Homo sapiens: one gene and its partners. The protein of the gene in region 3 purifies or fractionates together with the protein of the main gene of each other region. This does not show direct contact. Each region holds a gene or a part of one and is shown on either strand. Other genes may lie near its edges.

Region 1 (3,653 bases), on a different chromosome or scaffold from region 3:
GGCTGTTTATCAGCCAGGGCTTCATTGTCTGTAGGATCTCAAACCTAGTGTGGTTTTAATAAAACACACACAGTTTTTAGCTGGGTAGCAGCTATTTCCTTTGCATGGGCATAAAATGGAGTATTTCTGTAAGACAGGTTCCTAGGCTGGGAGTGCCTGAGTCAAAGAGCACAGTCATGTGTTGCATAAGGACAGTTCAGTCAAAGATGAACCACATATACAACCGTGGTCCCATAAGATTGTCATATACTGTATTTTTACCATACCTTTTCTATGTTTAGGTAAGTTTATATGCACAAATACTTACCATCCTGCTCTGGTTGCCTACAGTATTTGGTACAGTGCCTGCTGTACAGATTCACTGGCCAGGAGCTATAGGCCACACCCTACAGCCTAGGTGTGTAGTTGGCAGTACCATCTAAGGTTGTTAAGTAATATTCTGTGATGTTTGCACGATGACAAAAGTCATGTAAGGACACATTTCTCAGAACATACCCCCTTCGTTAAGCAACACATGACTGTCTTTGCATTGAAAATTTTGATAGATACTAACTCGCCCTTCACAAGGGTAAAAACAGTTTGCACTCTCAACAGCCATGCTCCCACCTTCTTGCTGACATTACATCTTATTCTCTGTAATGTTTGCCAATCTGATGGGGGGCGGAAAGGACCACAGTGTCAAGTGTATTTTTGGATCATAGTTTTCAAGCATATTTTTAGTACCATTTATAATTTTTTTATATGTCAATATAAAATATTTAGAAAATATTTTCTACTGGATGTTACAAATTAATCTTTATTATCTTTTCTCAGGACTTACAAAGTACCCAAGCATCTAGTCTGGAACTGACAGAGATAAGTAGAGAAAATGTAAATATTAAATCTTTTAATGAGCCACTGGTTTAAAAATGTTGTTTTAGCTGCCATGTTAATGAAATGGCAAGAAGGCTGGGTTTTTGAAAATTATGCTTTTAGAACGCAAGTAATCACTTGAAAATTGAGATACATACTTGTGGTGCCAGGCACGCAGTAAGTTTTTGCTGATGATTCACCTGTCAGTTTCTGTAACTGCCACTCACTGTTCTTATGTAAAAAGCACTCTCTCACTCTTAACTGCTGAATAGTACTGTTCTGGGGTATTTCCAAATATTGAACATCAGCCAGTGCACTGGCAAATGAACTTCCATGTGTATCTTCAACCCCTGGGAGAATAACTGCAATTTAAAAATGCGCTGTTATTAATGGAGAAAGTGAGGTCTTACCGACTGGCACGTTCACACCTCACAGACAGAACAGAATCTTAGCATTCTGGGGGCACCCTGGAAAGGACAACTAAGACACGTTTGAAGTTCATGTAGTGCTGGGTGAAGGTGGTGGCTCAGGCCTGTAGTCCCAGCGCTTTGGCTGAGGTGGGGGGATTGCTTGAGCCTAGGAGTTTGAGATCAGCCTGGGCCACATAGGGAGAACCCCATCTCTACAAAAAATTAAAAAATTATCTGGGCATGGTGGCGCATGGCTGTGATCCCAGCTTTGGGTGGCTGAAGTAGGCGGATGACTTGAGCCCAGGAGGTTGAGGCTGCAGTGAGCCATGATTGAGCCACTGCATCCCAGTGTGGATGACAGAGTAAGACCCTGTCTCTTAAAAAAATTTCATATAGTTCTATGAAAAATTATTAATTTATGGTGGAGGATAAAGGACTCAGATGAACAGGGATATCAGACTCTCTTCTCAACCCGTGTAGCCCTTCACAACACCATACCATTCCGTCATAAAGCACCAGCTGCCTGGAGGTCACACCAGAGTGGAGCAGGAACATCCCAGGCTCCGGCCAGGCTCAGCTCAGCACAACCAAGACTTCAGATTATAAACTATAATTCTTCCCCTTCTAACATTGTTGTGTTTTGTTTCTTTTCCAATAGGTTCCAAAGTCTGGCACGCCCCAGCTTGTGAGTATTTTTGCCTGGGTTATTTCATGTGGAATATTTTATAAAGTTGCATAGAAAATGAACAGTTTAAACCGTGGAGGGCAGCTTCATTCATTCCATTCCTTACTGTAGAACTGTTTCCCTACAGCCTAGTAATAGAGGAGGAGACATTTCTAAAATCGCACCCAGAACTGTCTACACCAAGAGCAAAGATTCGACTGTCAATCACACTTTGACTTGCACCAAAATACCACCTATGAACTATGTGTCAAAGGTTTGAAGAGCACCAAATTTTCTTAACTCTATATAAAAATTAAGTTGTAATGAGCTGTTACGAGTAACCTGTATCCACAATAGAGGCCCAAAGCAGCCCCCTCTGCATTTGTGTGCCGTCCCTGGACGGATTCGAGAGTCAACCAGGCCTGCCTCTGAGCCATTCCTGTGTATTTCCTCAGCACCTCCCTGCTTGGCTGCTTCCCCTTCAGGCAGAACACAGTACTGCCTCAGACCCCAGGCACAGGGGGCCTTCCTGGCGTGTTTCACTCATACAGAGGGCATCGGGTCCCACCCTGTCACTCATTTCATCGTCTAAAATGTAATCATGTGTGTTTGCTTCGAGCCAGGGACAGTGCTGCTGCAGGGGACCCAGCTGGGACCAAGGCAGACTGTCTCTCCCCTCCTGGGATTTACAGGGTCATGGCTCTGAAACATTCCGTAGTGTTCTTTGGACACGAGTTTTCCCTGGAGATCGCTTTCTGCAGGCCTCTTGGTCCTGACTGTGGCTTCTTTTCAGAGGCTGCCATTCGCTGCAAGGTTGAACACCCCCATGGGCCCTGGACGAACTGTCGTCGTTAAAGGAGAAGTGAATGCAAATGCCAAAAGGTCAGTATCCTTCGGTACCAGTCACAGTGCAGATACTTCCGTGCCTGTTACCGCCTTCCACCCGTGAACGGTCCTGTGAGCTGGAAGAAGGGCTAGCGTCAGAATCTTCATTTCCAAAGTGAGATGATTCAAGCAGGAGGTGGTTAGATTGTGAACAGCCAGTGGGCAGCAGAGCCGACTAAGGCCGTGTTCTGACCTCGGCTTTTTCTGGCCAGACAAGAGAGTAGCATTTTTGTCCACGAGGCCTATCCTTGCCTTGTAGAACTCCAGAGCAGCCCCGTAAGATCAGGCAACATCTTTTCTTTTTTTTTTTTGAGATGGAGCCTCACTGTGTCACCCAGGCTGGAGTGCAGTGTCACAATCCCAGCACACCACAACCTCCGCTTCCTGGGTGTTCAAGCCATTCTCCTACCTCAGCCTCTGGAGTAGCTGGGATTACAGGCGCACCACCACGCCCAGCTACTTTTTGAATTTTTGTATTTTTAGTAGAGACAGGGGTTCACCATGTTGGCCAGGCTGGTCTGGAACTCCTGACCTCAAGTGATCCGCCCACTTCGCCCTCCCAGTGCTGGGATTACAGGTGTGAGTCACCACGCCCAGCCCAGGCAACATTTTTTAGGGCCCCTCTTGTCATGTGATTTAGAAAATTTCTGCTTTAACAACTTTTTCCACAGACGTCCAGCCTTCTGAAAGCTTGAAATTAGAGCTATTTCCTAGAAAGTGGCATACTTTCAAGAAGGAAGGAACACGGGTAGATGATGAAAAGAGAATACCTGCTTGAGAGGATCCCAGGCTCCTGCAGCCTGAAGTAGTCATTCAGTTTAGCGTTAAACCTTCCATTTCTG
Region 2 (3,653 bases), about 46 Mb from region 3:
GGGCTGTACTGTGCTGGTCAAAGATATCTGAATGTTTTCATAATTTCACTAGTGGGAAAACAAATGTCTGCTTTCTATTCCTTTATACTCTGTTTCATTCTAAAAGCATTTGAGGCTGCTTACTAAAATAGGTGCATTATGACAATACAATTTAATAAACTGGAGCCAAGGAAAGTAACTGAGATAAAGTTAATAAACAGAAATGTGTGTCAAAGGATCCTATATAGTAGTCCAAGAAACTCCAAATTTTATTTGGAGTCTCTTAGCAGCCAGGGCAAAGAGGGAAACTTGGGAAGTTAAAATTTTCACAGGGTCTATGAGATAAAAGTTAAAGCAGAGAATACTGTACAATAGTAGTAGTAGTGTTCTCAGCAACAATCATGTAACAGTTATTTTCATGTGGCTATTTGCGTAAGGTCACTTATTTCTGAGATATGACCTAACCGAATGAAAGTAATTCACTGGGGACCAAGAAAATAGGTCTTCTGGCCTGAACCAGGATGAAATGTAGAGGAATGGATGGTCTGCATGTCTTTCAGGCCACTATTCAACAGTATTATTTCTTGAAATGAGCTTTGGGTAAGAGATGGAAAACAGTTCTAGGTTCTTTCCTTCATCAAGAACTTGAAGTACAGATACTCTCAGTGGCCAATTAAGGGTAGAAAGGACATCCTTTGAGGTGAGTCAAGCCAGTACCTATCTTCAGGCCCAGAATTTATGCAGAAAACAGTTCTGAATCTTGGCTCCACCTCCAAAAACAAAATAAATGACAGAGTCCCCTGAGATTCTGAGTTCTTTCTCAGTGGTAATAGATATAAACCAGGGACAACTGTTTCAACTTCAGATGTTGTTGGGTTTAGCTGGCTTTTTGGTTCAGTTGTGTTTGGTTCTCGATGTGCCTTCTTAGGAGCCTAACATGAGCACATGTAAAAAAATTATTTTCCTAAACTGTCTATCAATTGTCAGTGGTGGGAGATGGCTCAGTTTTATGCTGAGAAGGGTGACATAGTGGTTGCCAAGGGTAATCTGCAGTGACAAGCTCAAGAGTTGGTAGTGACTGAAAGCTGTTTTTTCATCTATAGCTTTACAGCTGCAGAAATCGCACCGTTTGTTGAGATTCTGCTAACAAACCTTTTCAAAGCTCTCACACTTCCTGGCTCTTCAGAAAATGAATATATTATGAAAGGTAGGCTGTTTCCCTGGTGTGCAGACTACAGGTATCCAATCTCAGATTGTAAGGGTGAGCACTCTGAGTTATACTTCAGGTTATACAGTCTATGAACCAGATAATGTTTACCAAGTAGTAAGTTAGTTTAGATATTTCAAAATGAAAAACATTATCTTGTTTACTACTAACAATAATTTTTTTTTTTTTTTTTTTTTTTTTTTGAGATGGAGCCTTGCTCTGTTGCCCAGGCTGAAGTGCAGTGGCTTGATCTCAGCTCACTGCCACCTCTCCCTCCTGGGTTCAAGCGATTCTCCTGCCTCAGCCTCCCGAGTAACTGGGATTACAGGTGCACTCCACCATGCCCGGTTAATTTTTGTATTTTTAGTAGAGACAGGGTTTTGCCATATTGGCCAGGCTGGTCTCAAACTCCTGACCTCAAATATCTGCCCGCCTCAGCCTCCCAAAGTGCTGGGATTAGAGGCCACTGCACCTGGCCAACAGTAATCTTAATTTGATATGGAACTTCTCATTACAGAAAATGTAGCAAAGCCCTTTTTTCCTTCCCTAGATTGAGTTTCTTTAAGGCAAAGAAGAGATCATGCAACGTTTATTAACTGCATGCTCACCTAGGTAGGGGTGAAATGTGGGTGCCTGTGGTAGACTCTGCACAAATCGTGTCTTCTTACGTACTGCCAAGGACACAGGCAGCTGTATCCATCCACAGGCTGGTGTATCCATCCACCAGGCACTACATTAGTTGAGTGTCCTGGTGCCAGCTCTGAATTTAGAGATAGTCTCAGTGTTTTTCACTGTTGCATCCCAAAAGCCTAGCACATTGGGTTGTAGGAAGCACTTTTCAGAGAAACTCCCTGATCTTTTCAGTCTGGATCAGAAATCCTAGAGTGGATGTGTGTATCTGGGTGTATGTTTCCAACACTATCCTTCCCCCAACAATGATGTATAATTGTGTAATTATTGTTGTTTAATGTCCTTTTTTTTTTTTTTTTTTTTTTTGAGATGGAGTTTCACTCTTGTTGCCCAGGCTGGAGTGCAATGGCACAATCTCAGCTCACTGCAGCCTCACTCTCCTGGGTTCAAGCGATTCGCCTGCCTCAGCCTCCCGAGTAGCTAGGATTACAGGCGTGTGCTACCATGCCCAGCTAATTTTGTATTTTTAGTAGAGACAGGGTTTCTGCATGTTGGTCAGGCTGGTCTTGAACTCCCGACCTCAGGTGATCCACCCGCCTCAGCCTCCCAAAGTGCTGGGATTACAGGTGTGAGCCACTGCGCCCAGCCTTAATGTCCATTTCTATGAGAGCGGCTAACTAGTCTGTAATCTTCATTACTGTGTTTTTAGGGTATGTAAGAATACACAGTATGTAATACCTTCTCTGTACGGTTGTATGAGTGAATGAAATAATTCTGCGCCAGCCTAGTGGAGGAGCACCAATTTATCCTCTAGCCCTTTTAACCCAGGTCAGGGAAGGATTTTCTCTAGGAAGTGATCTCTAAGCTGAGATATGACCTAACCGAACGTTAGGTGTGAGGGATAGGTAGCAATCTGTTGAAGGGTGGATGAGTCTTTGACTCCAGTAGAGGAGGAAACATGATGTGCAGAGTTCAGGAGGCAAGAGCAGATAGCTTTCTGTCCTTTATGCTTGGCATGTATTTGGGGCTCTGCTTAGTAAACATTTATTTTAGAAATGTTATTTGTGGAAAGAGAGCTTTTATACATTTTTAGCTGACAAATTTATTTTTCTCCCATGCTTCCTATTTTTAACCCATTTATGGTCTTTTGAGCAATATTTTTGCAATTTGGACTCTGTGGCTTTACATGTATTTTTAGAATTTTTTTAGGCTCCTAATCTCTTTTTTTGAGGGAGGTGGATAGGCAGTTTTCTCTTCAGTTTCCTGTAGTTTGTGATCATGTTTCCTTTAGGCTAGGGCTAAACATTTTCTGATGCTGGTTTCTTTTTCTTTTTCTTTTTTTTTTTTTTTTTTGAGAGAGAGAGGGAGTCTCGCTCTGTCTCCCAGGCTGGAGTGCAGTGGCATGATCTTGGCTCACTGCAACCTCCACTTCCCAGGTTCAAGCGATTCTCAAGCCTCAGCCTCCCGAGTAGCTGGGACTACAGACGTGCACCACATACCTGGCTAATTTTGCTATTTTTAATGGAGATGGGTTTTGCCATGTTAGCCAGGTTGGTCTCAGACTCTAGCCTCAAGTGATCCGCCAGCCTCGGCCTCCCAAAGTGCTGGGGTTACAGGTGTGAGCCACCAAGCATGGCCTCTGCTACTGATTTCTAAGAGAAAGAGACCCCAAACAGTTCTCTCTCAGACTCACCTGCTCCATTCATGTCAGCTCACTGTTTCTTCCTCTTAGTCAACCTCTTTAATTATTTTTTAAACCTTGAGCCTTCTAGAAATACTCAGTATTTCCCAGCTAAATTTTGTTGCCAACCCGTCCTAATTTTAAAAGGAAGGGAAA
Region 3 (3,653 bases):
TACTTAACATATTTAGGAAATCATTCTATTATCAACATATATAGAGAGTTATTTGTTCTTTCTGTTGACATGCTTTTACTTATTTAGTTGTATGGCTGTACTGTAACATCTTTGGGTTAAATATTTGTTTCCAGGTTCTTCTCTTACAGCAATGAATGTCCTTGTACATACTGTGTTATGTGCTCATTTGCAAAGTTATCTGAACAATATGCTTTTAGAAGTAGAATTACTGGGTCAAGGGATATGTCTGCATTTTTGATTTGCAGACATGGAGCCAAACTGCCACCCGTTTCTGGGGGGTTGTACCAATTTATCCTCTCCCCCAAAGTGTATAGCTGGATAGATGATCTTTGGAGAATTCAGGAGGATCAACTACGATGCTTTTTCAGCTATTATATGCCTACTTTTCCTCCACAAATCCTCCCCCACCCTATGCGATTCTAGCCAGTTTCTTTGAATTTACAGAGGGAGATGTTGAGGCTCAGAAGGATAAAAGTAACTTGTGCAGGATGATCAGTGCGGGTGGTGGTGGGTGTTTTGTTTTGTATTTTTGCACCCCTCATGTTTGTATTTGCCAGCACCTTTCATTGGAGGTGCTCAGTGTCAGTTTGTAAACATTATTGCATTATTTTTCTCCATTTTCACATGGAAAAAAATGAGATGCAGGGGAAGTTTGAGTTATGAGAGGGAAACTGGCCAAATATAGAATCTTGTCATTTTACTTCCAGTGCAATAATAAATGTTTCCAAATGACAAAGCTGAAGAGATGTTTTTTGTTTGTTTGTTTGTTTGTTTGTTTTTTGAGATGGAGTTTTGCTCTTGTTGCCCAGGCTGGAATGCAATGGCGCTATCTTGGCTCACGCAACTTTTGCCTCCTGGGTTCAAGCGATTCTCCTGCCTCAGCCTCCCGAGTAGCTGGGATTACAGGCATGTGTCACTGTACCTGGCTAATTTTGTATTTTTAGTAAAGACGGGGTTTCTCCATGTTGGTAAGGCTGGTCTTGAACTCCTGACCTCAGGTGATCCGCTGGTCTTGGCCTCCCAAAGTCCTGGGATTACAAGCATGAGCCACCGTGCCCGGTGAAGAAATGGTTTTTTAGTGAGTCTGAGTACAACAAAAATAGCAATAATATAACACTAACTTAATAAAACTGAACAGCAGGCCCAAAAATAGCCCAACATTAAAATTTATTTTAATGTATTCTCTATGGAAAAGAGAATCCATTAAATGTAAAACTATTTATTTTACTCTAAATTCACATCCATTTGTGTCAGTGTACAAGACATAATTTTTATAGTAGCAGTCAGTACATATAGAATATGATTTTTGAATTCTTCAATAGCATAAAATATTTTATATTTACTCATTTAAGTATTTGTTCATTTAAAATCACAGGCTGGGTGCGGTGGCTCACGCCTGTAATCCCAGCACTTTGGGAGGCTGAGGCAGGTGGATCATGAGGTCAAGAGATCAAGACCATCCTGGCCAACATGGTGAAACCCCATCTCTACTAAAAATACAAAAATTAGCTGGGTGTGGTGGCGCGTGCCTGTAATCCCAGCTACTCGGGAGGCTGAGGCATGAGAATCACTTGAACCCAGGAGGCGGAAGTTGCAGTGAGCCAAGATCTTGCCACTGTACTCCAGCCTGGCGACAGAGCGAGACTCCGTCTCAAAAAAAAGAAAAAAAAAATCACAGTATAGTATTCCATGCATCGACAGCTGTAGTTTTTTTTAAATTTGTTTTTGTTTTTTTGAGACAGGGTCTCACTCTGCCACCCTGGCTGGAGTGCAGTGGCATGATCACAGCTCACTGCAGCCTTGACCTCCTGGGCTAAATGATCTTCCCATCTCAGCCACCTGAATAGCTGGGACTGCACAGGTCTGTGCCACCACGACCAGCTAATTTTTTTATTTTTTGTAGAGACATTTTTATGTTGCCCAGGCTAGTCTTGAACTCCTGGACTCAAGTGATCCACCCGCCTTGGCCTCCCAAAGTGCTGGGATTACAGGTGTGAGCCACCACTCTCAGCCAACAGCTGTAGTTGGTGCAATCCTTTTTATTCTTTTATTTTTTTCTACCTTTTTGCTATTATAAATGGTACTTTTATACCCCTTGTTCAAATACTTCTTTTGGATTATTTCCTTGGACTCTTACTCCCAACCTGGGCTCACCAAGTCAGAGGATACAGTTTCGGTGCCTAATTGCAATCTGGAAAGGTTGAACTAGTTTCCAGCACTATCAGCAATTTATGGGGCCATTTCTTGACAACCCATCTAGTGCTATTACAAAGAAATGTAATGATACCTTGAATTAGGTTTAATTTACATTGCTTTGGAAAAAGAGACCAGTAGCTGATTTAGATTTTTTGAAAGAAGTACAGTGCTGTGATATAGATTATCTCCAAGATTTATGTAACTGAAGCCAACTTGTGGTTGAAGAAAGATTTGGTTGATGAGATTGAAATATTGTGGAAGTTTAGAATAGGATCATAGCAGTATAAAATATAAGGCTAGATGCTGTTCAGTTGGAAATACCAGGCATTGTGCCGGAAGCTGGGGACACCCCAGAGTAACATAGATGTGATGTCTGTCCTCATGACACTTTTAGGTTAGTGCAGTAGACAGACATTAAAATCACCTATGGTAATTATAGATGTGATGAAAGGGGAAGAATAGGGTGTCGGGAGTGTCAGAGAAGTTCAGCAGCTAAACAACATTTGCAGTTAAACATTTGTGAAGGCCCTGAGCTGAGAAGGGATTTGGTAGCTCAGGGCAGCGCTTCGCTAACTTGAATGTGCTCATGAACCATCTGGGAATCTTGTTAAAATGCCAAGTCCTGAATCAGTAGGTTTGGGGTGGGACTTGGGATTCTGTGTTACTAACCAGCTCCTGGGTGAGGCAGATGCTGCTGGTGGGTGGATCACACTTGGTGTAGCAAGGCCTAATTGAGAGCTTGGTGAGCACCTAAAACTGGCTGACCATGGTGAGCAGGAAGGGGCAGGTGGCTTGCAGTGACAGAGTAATTCTCTGCCTAGGCTGCACTTTAGATTCACCTGGGGAACTTAGAAAAATCAGGGTTGCAAATGCCCCACCCGCAGCCATTTTAATTTAATTGGTCTCAGTTGGGGCCTGAGAATGTGTATACAGTCATGCACAGTATAACGATGTTTCCATCAAGGAGAGACTGCATATGCCACAGTGGTCCCATAAGATTATAATCCATAATTTTACTATACCTTTTCTATTTTTAGATATGTTTAAATACACAAATACTCACTGTGTTAGTTACTTACAGTATTCAGTACAGTAACATGCTGTACAGGTTTGTAGCCTAGGAGCAGTAGGCTATACAATATAGCCTAGATACGTAGCAAGCTGTACCATCTCATTTTGTGTAAGTACCTTTTATGATGTTTGCAGAATTATGAAATCACATCAGGACTCATCCTCAGAATGTGTTCCATTGTTAAGTGATGCATACCTGTATATATATTTTAACTCCCCAGGTGATTCTAATGTGTAGCCAGGCTTGAGAACTAGAGACTAAGGACAGTGTTGAGACTAGAGAATGGCAAGGAGCAGAGTTGAGGGTCCTGTATGGCATGCAAGGATTTTGGACTCTATCCTGAAGGCAGAGCTAAATCTTTGAA

Evidence for each region.
Region 1: the proteins of PTPRA (region 3) and LGALS8 purify together in Homo sapiens (affinity purification with mass spectrometry; 3 studies listed by BioGRID and IntAct, with this or other methods). This does not show direct contact.
Region 2: the proteins of PTPRA (region 3) and CSE1L purify together in Homo sapiens (affinity purification with mass spectrometry, with the first as the bait; 2 studies listed by BioGRID). This does not show direct contact.

The regions. Positions count from the first base shown.
Region 1 is NC_000001.11:236,540,841-236,544,493, forward strand, and holds part of LGALS8 (galectin-8), read left to right. Parts: intron 1-813; coding exon 814-870; intron 871-1,920; coding exon 1,921-1,947; intron 1,948-2,074; coding exon of another isoform or gene 2,075-2,200; intron 2,201-2,719; coding exon 2,720-2,808; intron 2,809-3,653.
Region 2 is NC_000020.11:49,084,201-49,087,853, forward strand, and holds part of CSE1L (exportin-2), read left to right. Parts: intron 1-1,082; coding exon 1,083-1,186; intron 1,187-3,653. UniProt on the Homo sapiens protein: Export receptor for importin-alpha. Mediates importin-alpha re-export from the nucleus to the cytoplasm after import substrates (cargos) have been released into the nucleoplasm.
Region 3 is NC_000020.11:2,876,476-2,880,128, forward strand, and holds part of PTPRA (receptor-type tyrosine-protein phosphatase alpha isoform 1 precursor), read left to right. Parts: intron 1-3,653. UniProt on the Homo sapiens protein: Tyrosine protein phosphatase which is involved in integrin-mediated focal adhesion formation.